Regions from separate parts of the Homo sapiens genome. Here region 2 is linked to region 1. The links come from fine-mapping of genetic effects on gene expression. A gene starts in region 1. The other region holds a variant in brackets. All regions are shown on one strand. Distances are from middle to middle.

Region 1 (5,373 bases):
GCTGTTTCCCCTTGTGAGTTTACTATGAAAATGAGCTGTCAAGATTCCAGGGAAGGGAAAGATGCCAACTCCAGGCTGAGGTCATGATTTTGTTTAAAGAGGCTTTGCTAATCATCTCAGTGGTGATGCAAACTCCCTGCAATGATGTTCAAGACAGGCCTGGGTGGGACTGGCCTCCCTTCCCCTGCCACGGCTCTGGGGAGGAATAAGCTGGAAATCGAAAGGAGCCCTTTAAAAGCCCTGGTTTCTTCACCAGTGACACAAATGATGGGTATGTGGGTAGGACTAATCAAAGCAAATCAGCAAGTGTTCCTAGATGAAGGCTCCCTGCTAGACAAAATCGGGTGCAACAAAGTGGAAGAAGAGGCCCTTCCCTCTAAGCCTCACTGGGACTCACTCTCCTCATTGCAAACGTGATCGAGTTGGACTTCTCCCATGAAATACCCCTAGTGCAAATGAGGGTTTCTGTCCTCCGCTCCTCTAGGCATTATTCTAAGCCAACTACTATAAATGAGAAACTTATGTGAGTTGCCTTAAACATTCCGTGCAAGTTTTGCATTTGATTTCACAGATATTCCAAGTTGTTTTAATATATACATTGTGGCTGTTCTCTCAAATAGCTAAGTAAAATTGATACCCCAGAAAGATGCCCCATATTTATGCTATGACTTAATGGGTACCCCTAAGAGTACCCATTCTTGGGTACTCTGCCAGACTACCCATTCCCTACCAGGAGCAGCTCCGAGCTGGATGATGTCTGACATTCTTTCTAGATCCAAAATTCCTTTATGAGGAGTCAGAAATAAGTAATAACAGAAACAACATAGGCAGATATGTTTGAATGTAAGGACATATAAATTCAATTTCTTTTTTTCAAAACTCTCACCAAGTAAAACGCTTCTACAGCCCAGATTCACCCACCAACTGTCAGTTTTCAAACTGTATTTTCAGAATCTATATTTTAAGAAAAGTCCCCAGGGGACTCTTATGATCAGGCATTTGGAAACCCTGAAAAGACATGTATGAATTGTTCATAAACTATAAAACCTGAGATGAATGTGAGCCATCATTGTGGGTAAGGATAACAACCCCTGATGTCTTTGCCACACGAGATGGCTTAAATGAGATAGATAATGGGTATCACTTTGTGAAATTCAGGAACCGAAATTATCAAACTGGAAGGCATGGTGGCTGCTGCAGCTCTTTCCTTCTGAGCCTCATCACAGGTGTTTGCAGAGGATCTATAGCCCTGGAGGGAGGCACAGCTGGCTGGAAAAAGACACTGTCAGCCTCTTGCCTCTTCCTTTCCCAGTAGCTCAGATCCAGGGCTGTGAGCTGTTCTGGTGCAGAAACAGCAATAGCACCAAAGGTCTCTCTCTCTTCCTTTACTTACTTATTTTAGGACCTCTTCTATCAAAACAGAGGTCCGACAAAGAAAGGGACACAGATTCTAGTGTCCTTAAGAAGAGGGGCTGTCCTCGCTGGGCCCCTGGGTCTCTCCCCAGCCCTGCCCAGACACCCAGGACCCTATACATGGTGTTCTTTTACAAGGACACTGCCCTCCAGGAGACCTCATTTCCTAAGCCTATCCTAACTTGTCTTTCTATATCAAAACAAATGTATTGGTCCAGGGTTCTGTTGTTTTGGGGTCCCAGTGTGGCAAATTAATATGATAAATTATGTTTAAGGCTCTAAATAAAGTGCTACATGAAAGCAGATTCAGGTCTTATTCATTTCTTTTTCTTCTTTCCTTCTTTCTTTTTTTTTCTTTTTCTTTTTTTTTTTTTTGAGACGGAGTCTCGCTCTGTTGCCCAGGCTGGAGTGCAGTGGCACAATCTCGGCTCACCACAACCTCTGCTTCCCAGGTTCAAGTGATTCTCCTGCCTCAGCCTCCCGAGTAGCTGGGATTACAGGCACGTGCCACCACGTCCAGCTAATTTTTGTATTTTTTTTAGTAAAGACAGGGTTTCACCATGTTGGCCAGGATGGTCTCGATCTCTTGACCTCGTGATCCGCCCGCCTGGGCCTCCCAAAGTGCTGAGATTACAGGCTTGAGCCACTGCGCCCGGCCGGTCTTATTCATTTCTATGCTCCTGTCCCTAGTTTCTGGGTCACATTTGGAGAGGTGAGATGGAACTCAATTTGAAGTTACACGTGAAAAGGTGGCAGTGTTTTAGAACATCCTGACATTTCAATAGCTCCCTTTATTCATTCAACAAACATCTGAGTGCATACTATGTGCAGGGCATACTCTATAGGCCATCGGCTTTCGAACTTTTGTGAACTTCAGCATCACCTAGAGGCCTTGTTAAAACACAAAGTTCTGAATCATAGATTCTGATTCAGGAGGTCTGGATGAGCCCTGAGAATTCAATTTCTAACAAGTTCCCCGGTGCAGCTGATGCTCCTGGTCTGGGAACCACACTTGGAGAAAAACTGATACAGGGCAAGGCAGGAGCCAAGCCCCTGACCTCCTAAGACGCGGTCTAGGGTGGTTATTATGTCAAGGAGACTAACGATGGAAATTTTCTGATCTTGGCAGGCCAGTGGGGGAGACACGCAGGAGGCCTGGAAGCCCCTGGAGCTGTGGTCTCTGGCTGCCACCCCCGGAGTCAAGCACAAACAGAAGTCAGCTGTGCTGCGCCCATCCCTGCGGCGCCGTGAAAGAAGGCGCAGGAGGAGGGAGCCCTGACACCTCCTCTCGGGCTGGGGCCCCACAGCGGCGAAAAGACGGAGGGAGTGATCGGGGGTCGCGGGGATCCTTCCGGGACGGGCCTCCGTCGGAGGAGCTCCGGAAAGCCGCCCTCCACCTCCGAGGCCCCGCCTGCGCGGGCGCTCCACTAGCGGTCGGGGTGGTGGCGGCGGCGGCGGCGGCGGCGGCGGCGCGGGGCGGGGCGCCGCGACCCCTGTCCCTCCCCTGGGCCGAGCGGCAGGCGCGCTCGCACCGCCCCCGCCCCCTCGTCGCAGTCGCTGCCGACCGGCTGGCTGGGCCTTGCGGCGTGAGGACCCCGGCGGCGCCGCAGTCCCGCGAGCCATGGCCCAGTCCGGCGGGGAGGCTCGGCCCGGGCCCAAGACGGCGGTGCAGATCCGCGTCGCCATCCAGGAGGCCGAGGACGTGGACGAGTTGGAGGACGAGGAGGAGGGGGCGGAGACTCGGGGCGCCGGGGACCCGGCCCGGTACCTCAGCCCCGGCTGGGGCAGCGCGAGCGAGGAGGAGCCGAGCCGCGGGCACAGGTAGGCGCGGCGGCTGGCCCGGGAGGTGGGCCCCGAGGGGGCGCCGGGCCGCGCGCGAGTTCGGGGCGCTGACTGCGCGCGACAACTCCTCGGGCAGAGGGGGTTGAGTCAGCCCCGCCGCCGGGGAAGCAGCTCCGGGCCGAGCCCCTGAGTCAGAACCGGCCCGTGGAGGCAGCCGGTGCCCCAGCCCGCAGCTTCGTCGCCCAACCGAGGCTCCCAGGGCTGGCGGCCGGGATCTGAGGGGCCTGGACGTGGGGATGTTCAGGGATCCAGGAGGAGGACTTTCACGGGCCATCCAAGCCACCCCCTCCTCTGGAGGAGGCCTCTTCTCTGTGGGCTCCCTCAAGACACCACCTCCCCATCGCCGCAAAGTCCATCCCTACCCGCCTTCCCCTCCCCTTGCGAGTGGTCCCGCTTACCCTTCACTGCCATCATCGCCCTGCCTTTCCCAGTCCTGCTGGCTGCGCTCAGTCTTTAGGTGGTAGCAGGCCAGGTACAGCGGACACTTGCTGATGGGGGATTCCAGGAGGTGGGATTTCAAGGTAATTTGAGACGGATAGAGGACTTGCTGCTTTACTTCCTCCGCCCTGGGGGATTCCCATTTTCACACAGCCTTTCCCACCAGACCTTTATGTTTGCATCATCTTGCTGCCTTGCGGGGGGCGGGGGGGGGGTGTTCCTGGGTTTTGGGTAGTTTGGAGCTGCTATGGCACTTGTTTAACCTTGTCCCGGGTCCCGAGCTTTGTCCTCAGGCACCTTGGCTCCTGTCCACTAATGCCCAGGCCCTTAAGGACTGGTGTTTTGTTCCTGCTGTTGAAAGGAGATAAAACATAGACATAGACATGAGAGTGGGGAAATGACAGAACTTGCACATTCTGGTGGATGCCAACAGGCACTTATTAGGAGCTCTCTTTCTTCTAGGACCCTGTCCCAGGCGTTTAGCTGTTAAGGTTCTGCAGGATTGTCCTGGCAAGCGTATATCTACTTCACTGGGAGAATACTCAACTCAAGGGTGGAAGAATACTGGGCCCAGAGCCATTCTCTATTACTGGCTCACCCTTCCCCAGGTTAAAGGGTCAGACTTCTGGACCCAGAGATTCGGGGCAGACCAGTAGAGACAGTTGTTAGGGGAGAAAAGTCAGCCCACCAGGGTAGGGCAGGAAAGCTGGACCATAGTGTATGACAAAGTAGATAGATCAGTGCTTTATAATGCAAGGCCTGATTCGTTTAGCTCTGTGCCAAGTACCGAGAGCATAAAAATGATGAACCCTTAGTCACTGACAGCTCACAGTCTCGAGAAGGCAGTCCCCTAGTCAGACAATATCAGAGTATGTAAAATAGCCCCAAGTGGTTTATCCTTATAACTTTATTTTCCTGTGGCAGTGGCAAATAGCCATCCCTATCCTGAGGGCTAAATTTGTGAGATTGTATCATTAGCCAGGATTAAAGCTCTACTTATGTTTAAGGCCTGGAAAGATCCCCTATGGAGGTCTAGGAGAAACCAAGCCTCAGTATGGGTAGGCCTCTTGCCTGAACCCCTCTTGCTCTTCCTCCAGAACTGCCCAGCTCCCGTGGCTTGAGTCTCAGCAAGTGTTCAGTCTGAAGCCCTTCCTGCTGCCCACTGGCATAGAGTTGACCCCAGAAAATCCCTGGGGTTCTTCGGTGAGCTGACAGAGCCCAGTGGGCAGGCACCCAGAGCAGGAGGAGATGTAGCCAAGAACAGGATCCACACTATCCCCTGTTTGGACCCAGGCTCGCATGGCAGCAGCCATCACCCGATGTGAATGTTCTCAGCTCCTGGAGCCTACAGGAGAAAACCCAGATTCCTCAATCTGCTCATTAAGATGTGACACCCACTCACATCATCTCCTCAGCCCATTGCCTCAACAGTTCACGCTGTCAACAGTTCACGCTCCCGTGATTCCAGCTAGTTCCCTGAGCATAGGGGGCTATTTTGTGTCTACATGCCTCTGCACCCCCACCTCTAGGTCCTCTGATTGACTGATTTCTAGTCAGCCTTTAAAACTTCGCTGCCTCTTCTCCACCACCCCCAATCCCCACCCCAGAGCTGGCTGTGTTTCCTTTCTTCTCTGTTGCTGTAGTACTCTGTACATTTTATGCCTAGCACCTTCCACAATT
Region 2 (5,373 bases), 24 kb after region 1:
CAAACCTGGGAGAGAGCTGCCCCCTGACATCCGGAGGATCAGCAGCCGCTACAGCCAAGTGGGGACCCAGGAGTGCGCCATCGTGGAGTTCGAGGAGGTGGAAGCAGCCATCAAAGCCCATGAGTTCATGATCACAGAATCTCAGGGCAAAGAGAACATGAAAGCTGTCCTGATTGGTATGAAGCCACCCAAAAAGAAACCTGCCAAAGACAAAAATCATGACGAGGAGCCCACTGCGAGCATCCACCTGAACAAGTCCCTGAACAAGAGAGTCGAGGAGCTTCAGTACATGGGTGATGAGTCTTCTGCCAACAGCTCCTCTGACCCCGAGAGCAACCCCACATCCCCTATGGCGGGCCGACGGCACGCGGCCACCAACAAGCTCAGCCCGTCTGGCCACCAGAATCTCTTTCTGAGTCCAAATGCCTCCCCGTGCACAAGTCCTTGGAGCAGCCCCTTGGCCCAACGCAAAGGCGTTTCCAGAAAGTCCCCACTGGCGGAGGAAGGTAGACTGAACTGCAGCACCAGCCCTGAGATCTTCCGCAAGTGTATGGATTATTCCTCTGACAGCAGCGTCACTCCCTCTGGCAGCCCCTGGGTCCGGAGGCGTCGCCAAGCCGAGATGGGGACCCAGGAGAAAAGCCCCGGTACGAGTCCCCTGCTCTCCCGGAAGATGCAGACTGCAGATGGGCTACCCGTAGGGGTGCTGAGGTTGCCCAGGGGTCCTGACAACACCAGAGGATTTCATGGCCATGAGAGGAGCAGGGCCTGTGTATAAATACCTTCTATTTTTAATACAAGCTCCACTGAAAACCACCTTCGTTTTCAAGGTTCTGACAAACACCTGGCATGACAGAATGGAATTCGTTCCCCTTTGAGAGATTTTTTATTCATGTAGACCTCTTAATTTATCTATCTGTAATATACATAAATCGGTACGCCATGGTTTGAAGACCACCTTCTAGTTCAGGACTCCTGTTCTTCCCAGCATGGCCACTATTTTGATGATGGCTGATGTGTGTGAGTGTGATGGCCCTGAAGGGCTGTAGGACGGAGGTTCCCTGGGGGAAGTCTGTTCTTTGGTATGGAATTTTTCTCTCTTCTTTGGTATGGAATTTTTCCCTTCAGTGACTGAGCTGTCCTCGATAGGCCATGCAAGGGCTTCCTGAGAGTTCAGGAAAGTTCTCTTGTGCAACAGCAAGTAGCTAAGCCTATAGCATGGTGTCTTGTAGGACCAAATCGATGTTACCTGTCAAGTAAATAAATAATAAAACACCCAACTGGGAGTGCTGACTTTGAGGTTATAGATTGTGCCTGACAAAAGTCTGTGCCTGTCTGACAGAGCTGTGGGTGGTATGTCATGAGGCCCTGAGGAGCTTAGCAGAGACATCTTTCTTTTCTTTAAGAGAACATTTAAAAATTTTTTTATTTGTACACATTTATGGGCTACATGAGAAACTTTGTTACATGTTTATAATGCATAGTGATCAAGTCAGGGCATTTAGGGTTTCTCACTGTACCCCAGGGCAGCCCCAGGGCTCTCCTTGGGCTTCTGGCAGCCTGAGTGGTGTCTCATCACAGGGAATTTTACTGAGCAAAGGCAGCTTGGCGTATACTGAGGGTGTACAGTCCAGGACCCACAGCATTGATCTCACCTGGGAACTTATTAGAAATCCAGATTCTCAGGCCAACCCTAGGCCCACTGAATTAGAAAGTCTGGGAGAAAGGCCTGGAATTTGGGTTTTAACAAACGCTGCAGGTGATTCTGATGCACGCTGGAGAACCACTGGATGGACAAAGGCTGCAGGACTTGAGGTCAGTCCATTTGACCCCCAATCTCTCACTATTTTGTGACCTTGGGAAGGTTACTAAGCCCCGTGAACCTCATCATCTCCCTGTGAATTGCTTTGTTACGATGTCCATGTCTGGAATGCAGCTGGCCCTCCATAAATGTTAGCTCTCTTTCCTTCTCACTTGGGTTAATGTTTGTTATCATCAGGAGCTGCCTTGGTGTAGCAGAAAGAGCATTGGCCTAGATTCCAGTGTTGGCTTATGCTCTGGCTATTTGGCAGGATTTAATAGAGCTTGTTAATAATTATTGAACAGTGATTAGGTGCCAGGGACTATGCTAAGAGCTTTCCATGCATTATCTCATTTAATCTGCCCAAAAACTACAAGAGAAATGTTCAGGTATTATCTCTATTTTATTCCAGAAAAAAACAGACTTTACTTGGGTAATTAACTTGTCTAAGGCTTAACAGCTAAATTGGTAGAGTTGGGCTTGAAACTAGTGGTCTGGCTTTGGAGCCCACACTGTTTAACCACTAAGTGGTACTCAACATTTCTGATCTTTACTATCCATATTCAAAAAAGAATCCACCATAAAAGGTGCTAATATTTATTCAGCACCTTCCTACGTGCTAGGCATTGGGTTAGACACATTTCACTTACTCTCAGTGTCCATCATAAGGAATTATTATGCCAGTATCACACATGCAGCTGCTGAAGTAGGAAAATAATATCCCAAACTTGTGAAAATGGACAAAGATAGTATATCCTAAATGATATGGCTCTATACAAATTAGCAGGTGATTGTGATCTGGATAGTAAGATGCTTTGTCCCTTAAGATGCAGAAGAGTTCGTGTTAACTGGCAAATGCCTCCAGCAATGTTCTGGATTTGCCATTTCCAGCACTACCAGCTGTAGGTAGCCTGAAGGCTTGTGCCTAGACCACCAGGACTCCTGACCTTGGGCAATGTCAGGGCCCCCTCCAGCCCCGCCCTATGCTTCCCTCCCTGACTCTGCTCCCATCACCCCCTGCCTGCTCCTTCCCTGCAGCCACTCCACCTGCTCCTTGGCCATCGGGCCATCTGGGCTTCACCAGCTCTTCTTGGCCTGTGACATTCAAGG[C/T]TGTTCCACCCTATTATGCCTGTTACACAAGTCACAGCTCTATTTTTAGATTAACCCTCGTGGATCATAGTTACTTTTAAAAATACCTACACCCTCACCTTTACATGTGAATACAGATGAACTTGGCCTTCCTTTGGTCGTATTGCCCTGTGTGACATTATAAAAGAACCCTGAAGTGGGGGTCAGCAGATCTGAGGTCGAGTCGTGGCTTTTCTACTAAGCAACTGTGACCTTCAGCAAGTCATTTATTTTATTGGTTCACAGTTCTTCCCACAAACCAGTGGATAACAAGAAGATGTTCCTTAAATAAGGTCATATATGTGCAAGTGCTTTCTGAATGGAAAAGTGCTTTGCAGGCATTAGTCACTACTTATCCTGCTGTCTGATCATCACCTCCAAAGGCAAGCCTCCTTTTGCTGCAATTCTTAACCCTGGCCTCACATTAGAGTCACCTAAAGAGCTTTTAAAAACTGCCTATGGGGCTGGGCACGGTGGCTCACGCCTGTAATCCCAGCACTTCAGGAGACTGAGGCGGGCAGATCATGAGGTCAGGAGATTGAGACTATCCTGGCTAATGTGGTAAAACCCTGTCTCTACTAAAAATACAAAAAAATTAGCCGGGCATGGTGGCACGCACCTGTAATCCCAGCTACTTGGGAGGCGGAGGCAGGAGAATTGCTTGAACCTGGGAGGCGGAGGTTGCAGTGAGCCGAGATCACGCCGCTGCATTCCAGCCTGGGCAACAGAATGAGACTCCATCTCAAAAAAATAAAAATAAAAATAAACAAACCTGCCTATGGGCCAGGCATGGTGGCTCATGCCTGTAATCCCAGCACTTTAGAGTTGCTTGAGGCCAGGAGTTTGAGACCAGCCTAGGCCACATAGCAAGACTGTGGCTCTACAAAGATAAAAAATTAGCTGGGCAGGGCGATGTTCGCCTGTAGTCCCAGCTGCTAGGGAGACTGGGGTGAGAGACTTGCTTGAGCCCAGGAGGTCAAGGCTGCAGTGAGCCAAGATCATGCCACTGCACCCAGGCTGGGTGACAGAGTGAGACCCTGTCTCAAACAAAACAAAAGAAAACAACCAACTACCTCTGGCCATCCCTGAGATATTCTGATTTAATTGGTTCTGGGGTGAGGCCAGGGCATGAGTATTTTTTAAAACTCCTGGTGATTCTTGCCTGTAATCCCAGCTACTCAGGAGCCTGAGGCAGGAAAATTGCTTGAACCCAGGAGGCAGAGGTTGCAGTGAGCTGAGATAGTCCCACCACACTCCAGCCTGGGTGACAGAGCGAGACTCCGTCTCAAAAAAATAAAATTAAAATAAAAATTAAAAAACTTGGCCAGGCATGGTGGCTCATGCCTGCAATCCCAGCACTTTGGAATGCCAAAGCGGGTGGATCATCTGAGGTCAGGAGTTCGAGACCAGCCTGACTAACATGGTGAAACCCCATCTCTACTAAAAATACAAAAATTAGCCTGGCATGGTGGTGCGTGCCTGTAATCCCAGCTACTCTGGAGGCTGAGGCAGGAGAATCGCTTGAACCTGGGAGGCAGAGGTTGCAGTGAGCCGAAGTCGTGCCATTGTACTCCAGCCTGGGCAACAAGAGCAAAACTCCATCTCAAAAAAAAATTAAAAAATAAAAAATAAAATCTCCTAGGTGATTCTAATAGGCAGGCAGCATTGGAAAGCTCTGGCCACTGGAATGAGGAGCACATTAATTCCCTCCTCCTTTCTCAAGGCTTAGTCCTGGTCTCTTGTAGGCATTCCAGGGGTCTGAGCACCTTGTTGATGAACCTGCTCCTTCTAACTCTCTGGCCAAATCTTCAGCTGGGGCATGGGCTTCCTGTTTGTTAGCATAGCCGGCCTTTCTTGAATAGCTTGACTGAGAAACTCAGCCAATGGTATTTTTACAGATGTTTCATTATTTTTAATGAAAACCAGTTCCTTCTCCACACTGGGACACGAGGCCTGGTGACCATCTCCGCTTGAGGTGCTGGCAGAACATCTACACGCTACACATATCCAAAACACCACTTTGTCCACCCTCCCTCCCGCTCCATACACATGCCCATCTGCTCCTTCTCCTGACTTCCCCATCTCAGCCAGTGGCATCACCATCTCCCATGTCACCCAGACTGGAGATGAGGCCATGTGGAATACGTGAAGAATGCAGGTTCTGAAGACCAAGTGACCTTTGACTAACAACTGAGCCTCCCTATGTCTCAGTTTCCTCTCCAATAAATAATAGATAATAATAGTAGATAATAATAATTCCTATTTCATACAATTTGTTAGAATTAAATGAGTCAGGCCAGGCGTGGTGGCTCATGCTTGTAATCCCAGCACTTTGGGAGGCCGAGGCAGGTGGATCACTTGAGGTCAGCAGTTCAAGACCAGCCTGGCCAACATGGTGAAACTCTGACTCTACTAAAAATACAAAAATTAGCCGGGCCTGATGG

Alleles and levels. Alleles are on the strand shown, and positions count from the first base shown. SD is a standard deviation of normalised expression in the study named.
For the expression in cerebellar hemisphere of the gene that starts at base 2,966 in region 1, T is the low allele of the variant in region 2 and C is the other (moderate effect, 0.57 SD a copy in GTEx).

What was found.
Region 2: its variant is fine-mapped to the expression of LARP6 in cerebellar hemisphere (GTEx, PIP 0.99).

The regions. Positions count from the first base shown.
Region 1 is chr15:70,851,750-70,857,122 of GRCh38, reverse strand. LARP6 (La ribonucleoprotein 6, translational regulator) reads left to right here and starts at 2,966. Exons shown (of 3, transcript NM_018357.4): 1 at 2,966-3,234. The coding sequence starts at 3,035. It also overlaps a transcript of LRRC49 not described here. RefSeq lists an enhancer at 3,076-3,577.
Region 2 is chr15:70,827,457-70,832,829 of GRCh38, reverse strand. It overlaps LARP6 (La ribonucleoprotein 6, translational regulator), which reads left to right. Exons shown (of 3, transcript NM_018357.4): 3 at 1-3,700. The coding sequence ends at 778. Among named protein-coding and RNA genes, the nearest start is that of LARP6, 24 kb to the left of the region's middle. The variant C/T (reference allele first, on the strand shown) is at 2,912.